Homo sapiens: one gene and its partner. The protein of the gene in region 2 interacts with the protein of the main gene of each other region in a pairwise test. Each region holds a gene or a part of one and is shown on either strand. Other genes may lie near its edges.

Region 1 (7,303 bases), on a different chromosome or scaffold from region 2:
TTACACACCGTAGCAGATGCTGCTTTTCCTCTGAAGATGGCTCTCCTGGGTTCTGGGGTCTTGGCTGCAGCTCAAGATGCAGGCCCTTCCAGCGCTAAGTGAAAATCCTGCTCCCATAGCTTTTCAGACAGTCTGAGATGACTTAGCAACAGAGCAGGCTGGTCCTGTTTTCCTGTGCACGACAAGCTGCTGCTTCAGCCGCCAGGTCTCAGCTGGGCCTCCTCCAGAGGCCACTGCTGTTGTTGCTTGGTGCCTTTGGGCCTTGTTGTGTGAAGCAAGATGGAGCTGCTCCAGGGGGGCCAGCTCTGATGATTGTGTGTTGCAGGCTGGGAAGGCAGTTCCGCATCTGTTACTCTTTCTTCCTATTTCCCCTCCTGCCTTAACTGAGATTCTGGGTTTGGAGACCCTGGCGACTTGGATTCTTGCCATCCGATTACTGAGGGCTCTCTGGGAAGCCTAGAAAATAATCTATAAATCTGTAGAGACATGGTGGTAATGCAGTAAATCAACAGGCCTGGAACGTCCCAATGTGGATGCTTCGTAAATGCCTCTTGAAACCAGGGAAGAGAGATGGTCCCTCTTGCTTTCTCAACTATATTCGGAAAGCATAATGAAAGCTTTGGACATGTCTCCTCCAGAGTTTGGAACAATAGTGTTTCCTCGGACTAGGCTAGCTTCATTTATTTAGTTATGCAGGACTTTATTCCAAATCGTTTTCGCTACCACCAACTACTACTCTTTGGCACCTCCTTTTTCTCCTCCCTAATTAGCCCCCAGCATGGATTTAGCTAGTGGTTCTCATTTTCAGCAAAACCCTGCTTCTTGGTTTTATTTTAATACATAGAGGACATACATCCGTGTCTTGCAAACTGAATTCTAGAGCCTTGTGAACGTTTTCATTGTTTCATTTTTTTTTTAAGGAACTAAAACATATAAAGAATATTAAGTGTCTGTTGGATGTTTTCAATTACCGTTAGATTATAACTTTTCCTTTAGTTAACACTGGGAATCAGCAAGATTTGTTGGTGAAAAGATAGATGAATGTAACATCTACTGCTCTGCATTTTTAGATAAAAGTTTAGCTGATTACATTGTTACATTCTGATGTCACTTAACTGAATGTCCTTCAGTCTAAGATGGTAAGAGAATTTAAAACCCAGGAAAGATTTGGGGTTTAGTTTTCCTTTTCTTTTAACAGGGGAAATAAGAAACCAATACCATATGTGGTGAGAATTAAATGTTAGAGAGTCTTAAATTTACTATATTTGCCTATACTTTTCAAAGTCGAAGACAGATGGATTTCTGCTTGCACTGCTTAATTGGTATTATCTACGACAGCTCTGTGATCCATGCTGAAACACAAGGCAGTCCCCAAATTTAAGGTCATTAAATTGTTCACCTTCTCTAAGGGCTTACTTTAAAAAAATAAGTTATAACTTTTTAGACAAGCAAATAATTATGTCACTTCTCATTTGCTTGTGTTGTAAGATGTTATCTCAGACCTAAATTATTTATTATCAATGCTTTGAAACTATGAGCTCTGTATGTAAGATATTATCGTCATTACATACATATGTTATGAACATCAAGTTGCTGGCTTTAAAAAAAGAAAAAAAGCAAATTAAAGATGAGTTCAAGGGAAAAAATAAGAATTTTTTCCTCTGAGAAATAAAGCATTCCTAAATGTAGCATTTCCTTTAGTTCATTTATTTAGTTTATGATTTCAATCTGATTTCAGACCACTTTTTAGCATAGTTTTACAAATATAATCTTATGATTCTAGGTTAATGATTTAGGTACTTGGAAAAAATATCCAAAAGCCTGTTTTTCAGAGGGAGCAACTAAAGCCCATAAAGGAAAATCAACTTGCCAAAGGCCCAAATAACTGTCAGATAGAACCCATGTGCCATCAACATACAATGCATGGTCATTTCATTTTGCTTTCTTCAATCCACTGTCACCTTTAGAAATATGAATTTTAGCTTTTAAATGGGAGGTGCTTTTTTAAATTGTTGGTTTCATTAAACAACCCTGCAAAATGCTTACATGATTGGAAAACTTGGAACAATCTAGCCTGTACACACCAAGAGTACCTGACTTCTCCTCATTTTTCACCCTGACTTGTTCTTTAATGACCCCTCCCTGCCTCCCTGCCCCATAACCTATTCTTTTCTCCTTTTCTCATCTGTGTATATCATGTGCATGTCAGCCTCCCTTGTGTGCACTGCTACCACCTGGGGTCAGAGAACTGAGAAGGAAAGATCTTTTGTTGCTCCCTGGTCCCAAGGAGCTCACTTTCAGGGCTGGGCAATAGCCACAGAGCAGGCCCAGATTGTTCTCAGAGATGACGGATGCCTTTTGGCTCCAGACATTGAAAGAATGGGGTTCACTGCCTCCAACTGCCTGGAGTTATTCTGCCCCCACCTGGGTAAGCCCAGAAGGGGTACAGTCTTAGAATGCTGGGGAAACAAAGCCTCCAGGAAGAGCTTGACTTGGTGTATATTGGGGTGAAAATTAGAAAGAGGGCTTCCCTGCTCCCCAACAGAGACCAGGATGACTTGCTTCTGAAAGCCTCTTTAGAACCTCTTCACCAACACCCCAGGATGCCCTCCAGCCAGATTCAGAGAGGGGAGAATATGGGAAGGGCCAAAGAGATATTTTTCTGTCCTGTAAACTTTAGAGGGCTCACTGTTGGCTCCTTGTTAGGCACAAAGGGGAACTACATAAACCTACTAAATGCAATATGAACCTTCATTAACAACTACTCTTTGCCTTTACCAATATTATCCAGCAGGAGATACAAAGTAATTACAAATTATTTTATTTCTAAAATTGGTATGGAAAGTGGCCTGATTCCAAAATTTTCCTTTCCAACTAAAATAGCTGGCAAATCCAACATAACCTTTATTTTATAAGTGGTAGTAGTGGTTGTGCATTGCTAAGAAACAATTTGGGTGGAAATTGCTCTCTTGAAAAAAGAACCCTACATTTTTAGTTTCATTGGGAGTGTAAAAATGAGAAATATTTTTATCAGCCGTTTACTAGTATAATTTAGAAATTACTAAGTGGATTTATCATTTAGTACTTTTTCTATTGCTAAATTACAAATATGTCAAAAATAAAATATGTATGAAAATATAAAGCAAACATTTAATTGTGTGTGCCATGACAAGTTAACTGAAGCCAAGGGAAAATGGCAAGTAACAATGTAAGAGCAAGTCTGCAGATAACCCTGGATGAAGTCATTCAAATAATGTACCAATTTAGACATTACTTAGAACAAAGACAGAAAAATTGTATGAATTTAATTTAAATGCATATGTCTCATTATTAACTTATTGACCCAGCTTGACAGGGTAGAAGACAAAGTAGAGCTCAGACCTGGAACAAGGAGAATTCAGTCAACAATACCAATTAAGCAGCTCAGACAGGAACTCGATTTTTTTGCACTAGACTAGTATATAGTGTATACATTGAAGTAAAATATTCTAATGAATTCAGACCTCTCAACCTGTCAAGCTCTCTGTGAAACAAAAAGAACCCATTTATCATTTCTGCACTAAAAAGATCTGCGAAATCTCAACATGCCTTTCTTGTTAAAATTCAAATACTCCATTAGCACAAATGCAAACTGAGGCTATTAATGTTTCCAGGAAGAGCCATAAAATTCTCCCTTATAATTTGACCTTTCCTTAAGCACGTTAACTCTTCCACATCTGAATTCTTCCCATTGATCATATGAGAAATTTCTGCCTGTATTTAGTGGACACACATCTATTTGAAAATATTCCTCCTGGTTGAAAAGGTCTGTGGTGTGTAATCTAAAGATATTTTAGATGTGCAGTGAACTGAGTTTCCAGAATCTTTTTTTTTTGTAATGTCTATGTATAATCCACCTTGATTCTTTACAGGATAGGAAGACTGAATACAATATAACCAAGGGTAAATACAAATATGCCTTAAGGATCCAGTGTGTATTTAAGTAACACACTGCTATTTATTCCTTCAAGTCTGTATACATGACTAATGTCCAACAAAAATGATTACATGACTGGGTGTTAATTTAGAGATAGTTCACCTGCTGTGTTATACCTAGAGGTTCAAGCCCTTACCTTTAGGAGGTATGCAATAAATGTCTGTTGTTCTAGAGATTTGTTCCTGGCAATTGAGAATGCTGTATACAAAGGTACAATGATGGATACCACACACTGGCTCCACCATGAGCAACCTATTAGGAAAAATGTAATATATAATATGTAAACATGTAAAACACACACACACACCAGAGTTCTGGGGTTCCCCAACTTTCCCTGGCTTACTCTCCAGACCTCCCTTCTATGATGCTCTCTGGGGTTCCCTCTGGGCCATCCCCTTTGGGAGGGCAGGAGAAAGAGGACAGTGGGAGGAGGAAGGAAGAGGCTAGAGAGTAGGGCATGAGCACAGGAAGCTGCCCTCATCCCGCCTCTTGCCCTCCTGTTCCTCTCACCCTGGATATTCCTTTCAGCCTAGGGAAAGGAAGTCTGATAGGACTTCCTTTCCGTTCAGCCTAGGGTAGGAATAGCTGATTCATGTCCCCAACTCCATAAATGTTTTATAAAGTATAAAAAGTTGCCATTTTTCTTTGCCTCTGGATAAGAAAATTGAATACAATGAACAATTGTGAATAAAAGAGCTGCCTGCCAAGCTACTCAGGTAACAGAAAAGTGCCTGGAAGGACAGACAGGCCAAGTCTTGAAGATTGAGTGGATCCACTCTGTTTATCAAAGATCACATAAATCTTGGATTGATATCCAGGGCTCGATAAACCAAAGTCAAAAACGGGATTGGTAAAGGAAAGAAATTACACATGTATACTACCAGAACATCATTTTAGAAACAAAGGCCCGTGCTTGAATGGCAGCCCCCGTGTATTTTCTTTGCCTTTATTCTACATTTTCTTGCCACCTACAAGTGGAGTTAGTCTGTCTACAAGCTAGAGTTAGTCTGTTGGCCTCTTAGCTTCTTAAGAACTAACATCTTCCTGCCCTTTCTAGTCCCTCCCTGGAGTACAGCCTGTCATTTTCCTAACAACTGTTTTCTTTGACTCTTCCAGAAGAGGTGCATTTACTTTTTATGAGGGGCAGAAGCTCAGTCCACACTGCTAATTATCCCTCCCTTGTGGCCTGGTGGAGAGACCTCCCTGGCCCTCCCATTTTGTGGGCATCCACTGCTAAGCCACCAAGCTCTTCAGAAAAGGAGTTCCCACATCCTCCCTGAAAGCCTGAGAAATATTACAGTGATGTTGTCCAAACCACTCTGAAATGACTAACTGGAAGTCTCTCAACTGTCTTTCTTTCCCTCCCTAGGAATCCGATCATGGGACACAAACCTGATTGAATGCAACTTGGACCAAGAACTCAAACTTTTTGTATCTCGACACTCTGCAAGATTCTCTCCTGAAGTCCCAGGTGAGGCTTCCGCTCAGTGTTGGTCAGCCTAGAATTCCAAAGGACAAGGAGCAAGCTAGAAAGCTTTGTCTGAGGCAGCAAAAAGACTCTCTTATTGCTAAAAGGATACTTTGTATTTGTTATTATCAACTAGGTTAGCCAGCAGCCACAGTTTAGGAAGTCACTCTAGGTTATCACTGTGTGGGTTATCTATTTTGTGGATTCTTAATGAGTTTTTAAGTTCTAGGGTTGTGTATGTGTATATATATACACACACACACATCAATGATCACACAAATTTTGAATTGATATCCAGGGCTTGAGAAAGAGAGAGAGAGAAAGAGAGAGAGATAGTATAGTGTGTGTATGTGTATCTCACTGTACTCTGAGCTCAAGGGACTACAAACTATTTAAATGTTAATCTTACTCAAATGAAATTCTGAATACAAATTGGATGCTCCTAGGATCCCAGAACTGTCTTCCTGCAAAAGAAAAAGGAAACATATACTGCATTTCAAAATGAAATATACATCATCATTTCATAATTGCATTATCACCCGCCATTGCATTACCACTTATCTTTCTTCGTGTGGGTAAAAGAATCTGATATTACAAACTTCTGTTAAAATAGCCTTTTTTTCAGAGATGAAAAAGAATATCAAAGAATAATTAAAGGTAAGGATGCAAAAATTTGTCATATGTGAAGATGTTCCCACTAACCAGCCACCTTCCTGGGGCTATGATCTGACCCATGCCTCTGGCGCTGGAGATGTATTCATACTGACCCATCTCGTCTTCTTCTTGTGAGCAATAACCTATATTCCTCCCATTTGGTCACATTTAGGAATTATGAGACAGTTTCTGGCCCATAAAGACTCCAAACCTGGAATATATTTCTCCAGACCTTTGCCATTGACCCATCAGAAACACTGTATTACATCTTATTTCTTGACCATCACTTGAATTTTACATAAGAGAAAGCTATTTTCTGCCCATATGCTTTTGTTATATGATTCCTAATTTTATTGGCATTGATATAACATCAGGAATGAGATTCAGCCTATTTTGACTGGTTAGGTCATATTCCATTAGTCGTGTATATACATTGATATTTGAAATCACTTTTATAGAATATCAGTGCCTTCGTGAATCACATTTGGCTGCAGTAATATGCCCATAGGACTGTCTCAGTTCTTCCTTTTGAGTTTAATATTAGAATAAAATCCCATACATTTCAGTTATTGAAATGCATTGTAGCTTTCAAGTATGGAATTGAGTAAATGTGCTAAGAAAAGCTTAGCAAGAAATGGTTTATTAAAAGTTAACTTCCTGCAAAGCCACATGAAAAATCAGTTTTTAAGTAACTTTGCTTTGAGAAAAAAGGAATCCAGAGACTGTCAGACAGCATATGATTTGCTGAAGGAAAGGTACAGTATAAGGTTGTTTCTCTTGTTGTTATTTTATTGTATTTTTGTCTTGCGATATCTCCGTATCTTTTAAAACCATCTCACAAAAAAAATGAGGGAAGTGCTGTTTTCCAAAAAGTATGATTATTTCAAAATGTAAAAACTACAAGCTTTTATTTTTTCTCTGTAGGTTGTTCTGGCTTTTTTACTATGATTGTTTGTAAGACTTCTTTTTTTGTGTGTACAAGTCATGTGGTTCTCATTGTGTTCATTCATATTTGGACTGACTTTATAGAGTGACAACTGCATATTGCATAATGAAAGGCTGCAAGCATTGCTGAAGAATTAACCATTTCTAGACCCAAGACCTAGTATTGCTCCTGTGGAGTAGGAAGATCAAGTTCCCCCAAACTGTCACTTTAGCCTAATGTACCCCATTCTCCTCTCCTTTCTCCTGCTATCACCTTCAGT
Region 2 (3,651 bases):
GCTAAGCTCTTTACCCCTTGCCTTCAGTGGAGATCTGTATTTGAATTATCTTTTTCAAGTACTACCAATCTTTGTAGGTTTATTGTCTCTGGACAGCGCAGTAAGAGGGAACTAGAGAAATCTGCTTTCTGCAGATGGAATTCTGCCTCATATTACCAAGCCCTTAATATCAAGGTCCTCTAGTCCTCCGAAATCTATTTTCTCTCTGTCTTCTGAGGAAAGCCAATTTGAAACCATTTTTCAGGGAAGACAGCAAGGAGACTTATGCTGACGGCGATGGAGAGGCTCAGGCAGTCAGCCATGGAAAGACTCAGGCAGTCAGCCATGGAGAGACTCAGGCAGTCAGCGATGGAGAGACTCAGGCAGTCAGCGATGGAAGAGGCTCAGGCAGTGACTGGGGTGTGGCTGCTAAGGGACGGATCTAACATCACAAGCCACGGTCTAGGAGCTGACACCCACACCGTGTAAATGACAGAAACGACAACGTTTCATTCTTAAATCAAATCAAGCTGTATTGATAATGATGATTTAGCAGGAACCACTCTAAAAATCAGAAACAATTAGAATGCCTTCCCCATCAAATTATTTTATTAGGTTAATTAAACAGCTTAAAGATGATTCCTTTTGTGTGGTACCCTTCTAGAAAATATTTCAAGTTTTTAAGTGAACTTCCAATACATAAAACAAAATTACTTTAGCATACACAAATTTCAGATCAAAATACAACACTCTGTTTCTGTTTTCTTACAGTTATAAAATCCAGTCAATACAAACTACATAAAAAAGATAAAACACTTTCACTGATCCTTGGTACAAGAGAACAGCATGATGGCAAAATGTTCCCCAAGCACAGGTCCTGGGTTCGTGAGAAGGGACCAACCCCACAATATACTGAAGCATGTAAACAAAGTGCGTGCTACTTAATTTAGGTTAACAAATCCTTTTTGCATCAGTATTACTTGTAAACCATAAAGCAACTTTTAAAAAGAAAGGTTATTAATTAAAAATTACTTCTGACTGCTAAATTTCTTATCAGCAAGTGAACAGAAAATTATTCCACAAAACAAACTAGTACCTTTGGACCACAGGATGTGAGACGTGACATTTCAATGAAATCAACTTAGCACGACTTCTCTACTATCCTACTGAACTTGGGGAGTACAATTTTACAAGTTGCAGCCTTCTAGCACTTCCAATATTTTGAACTTTCTAAACCTGCCTATTTAGCTATGATTTTCATTGCAAATCCCTGTTTTTCAGTAGTAGGACTTTATTAAAGATAGGATAATATCACACACAATACAATCTTCACTGAATATGTGTCTAAGCAGACCTACTTGGAATTCTACTAGATAATAAAGTTGCAGGATTTAAAAGAAATACTATTCTGCAGGTCCCATGTCAGAAAACACAGATATGTTCAACAGATTGGTGTGGTATTTATATGGTATTCGTGGCATTTTCCTTATAGTATTCAAAGCATCAAAATGACAAATCAAGACTGTTAAAAACCAGTCTTGGACAAGGGTGACAGTCACATACTCGAGGGTCCAGCACAACACTGGCATGAGCCAACAGGAGCCACGCCGGCCACCTGCTGGGCCAGGGACCACTGCAAAGAGCAGCCCTGAATTTGGGAGGGTCAAATCGAATTTACAAATCTTGTTTTCAGGAATTTCCTTGATAGTTCTCTTTCATGGCAGAAGACCTATACCCGTGATGGAAAACAAAAGAATGTACACATTTCTAGTGTGTCATGAATGGGTCTCACTCACAGATAGGTACAGACATCACTGTCACTGCTAACACACAATGAAGTCTGCCTACGCCTACCTGAGGAGCATCCGCGATACCGTTTCTGATGAGGACAGGACTCTGCGGAGGTGGGCAGAGCAGGGGGTGCTTTTGTCAGCTCTGCTGGTCACTTCCAGGCTGCTGGTACACACCCCAACAGTGGCTGCAAAGATTGTTCAAAACTTCTGCTGAGGCCACAATGATTACGGGATGGTTGTCACAATTCACAAAAGGTATGATACAAAAAACAAAGGGTATCACCATTACGTCGCCGGCGAACTGAAGGGGTACAAGACCGAGGAACCAAACACAAGCTGAATTCAAAACGAAAAGAACCCCAGTGGCAGAAAAAGCCACGAATTATTTAATGAAGCAAGTTGTGCTAATAAACAGCCTGTGCTTTTCTTAACTGAAGGTCACTTGATACATTTCCCAACACACAATTTTTATTCAGATTATCTTTGTTTTCATGGAGAGCCTGAATTTTGAGGTACGATCTAGGAAAAAGATGTTATCACCCACACAAATGGAAGGCTCACTTCTTTACTTCTTAAGCTGATGATACCCTTTTGCCCGCCCCATGTACCAGATCCTACATGATTTTTTAAAATAAAACATAAGTCAATTTCAATGAGCATATGCTAGACTAACAATAAATTTATTTTTTGGAGTTTCTTTTGAAGCACAAATTCCTTTTAAAAAAAATATGAAAAGGTGGTCTCTCCTGGAAACAAGCAGTTCTAGTTTCCGATCCCACAACGATTTGGAACATAGTGTGTTTTTAAGTCAGAGCTGAAGAGGAAAGAAGGAAACAAGGGCTGCGCTCCGCTCTGGCGAATGCGAGCTGCAAAGGGACAGAGGAGGACCCACACGGAGGGTCCCCACCCGGCTCTGCGGACAGACATGGCAGAGGGCCTGTCACACAAGAGGCCACCGGGCCGAGCACGTCCGGGAGCCTGGGGCTGCACTGGGTGCTGAGGTAGTGAGCGGGGCCTGTGCCTGCCTGCCCTCCCGGCTTGGAGGGGGAGCCCTGAGGGCCTCTGGGGCTGGCCTGGAAGGTGTCATTCTAGCCTACAGGTGCCTAAGGCGCTGGGATGTGTCCTTGGCGGTGCCTCAGAAGGCACCTGGGTCCAAGTTCTGACCTGGAGCCTTGGGGACAGATCTGACTCTCACAGCCAGGGCCAGCTGGTTGTGGAAAGTGCTAGTATGCAGGTCTGCTCAGGGATCTGTGAGGCTCATGCTCTGGCCATTATGTGGTCTGAAGAACCAGAAGGGCTATTCTCCTCGCCCCCAACAACCCGCCCCAACTGCACCTTTCTTTTCCTTTTTATTTTGGATACATAATTCAAGCAGTAAAAAAACCAGGCTGGAAGAGGGTTGGGACAGAGGAGCAGAGGGCAGGGTGGGAAAGCTATCCCAAGAAGAGTGAGTAAAAACAACGACTCCGAACATGGCCAAAATACCCTTCCTCCACCTTGACGGCAATCCCTAAGCTGGCAGAGAAAGATGCGCCGACTGCGAAGTGCCTGTTTTCTCAGAGATTCCACCTAGCAGTGTCCATGGGGAGCCACAGTGGAACATGGAGAGAACAATCAAGGCTGGTTCAAACGAAAGGTTATTCACCAGTGAAAGAAACGGGGAGAAGACACAGCCGGCTAGCTCTGAAGACATGGTGTGCATCCCAGCCTATAAATCTCTAATGATCTTGATCCCGTGTTTCCCCTATTTCTGAGCAGACCTTTTTTTTTAATTTTTTATTTTTTTGTGAGACAGAGTCCCCCTCTGTCGCCCAGGCTGGAGTACAGTGGCACAATCCTGGCTCACTTCAACCTCTGCCTCCTGGGGTCAAGTGATTCT

The links.
Region 1: the proteins of GAN (region 2) and MAP1B interact in binary tests that used the Homo sapiens proteins (3 or more experiments, as listed by UniProt).

The regions. Positions count from the first base shown.
Region 1 is NC_000005.10:72,110,353-72,117,655, forward strand, and holds part of MAP1B (microtubule-associated protein 1B), read left to right. Parts: exon of another isoform or gene 1-3,135; intron 3,136-5,345; coding exon 5,346-5,447; intron 5,448-7,303. UniProt on the Homo sapiens protein: Facilitates tyrosination of alpha-tubulin in neuronal microtubules. Phosphorylated MAP1B is required for proper microtubule dynamics and plays a role in the cytoskeletal changes that accompany neuronal differentiation and neurite extension.
Region 2 is NC_000016.10:81,387,725-81,391,375, reverse strand, and holds the end of GAN (gigaxonin), read right to left. Parts: 3' UTR 567-3,651; downstream 1-566. UniProt on the Homo sapiens protein: Probable cytoskeletal component that directly or indirectly plays an important role in neurofilament architecture.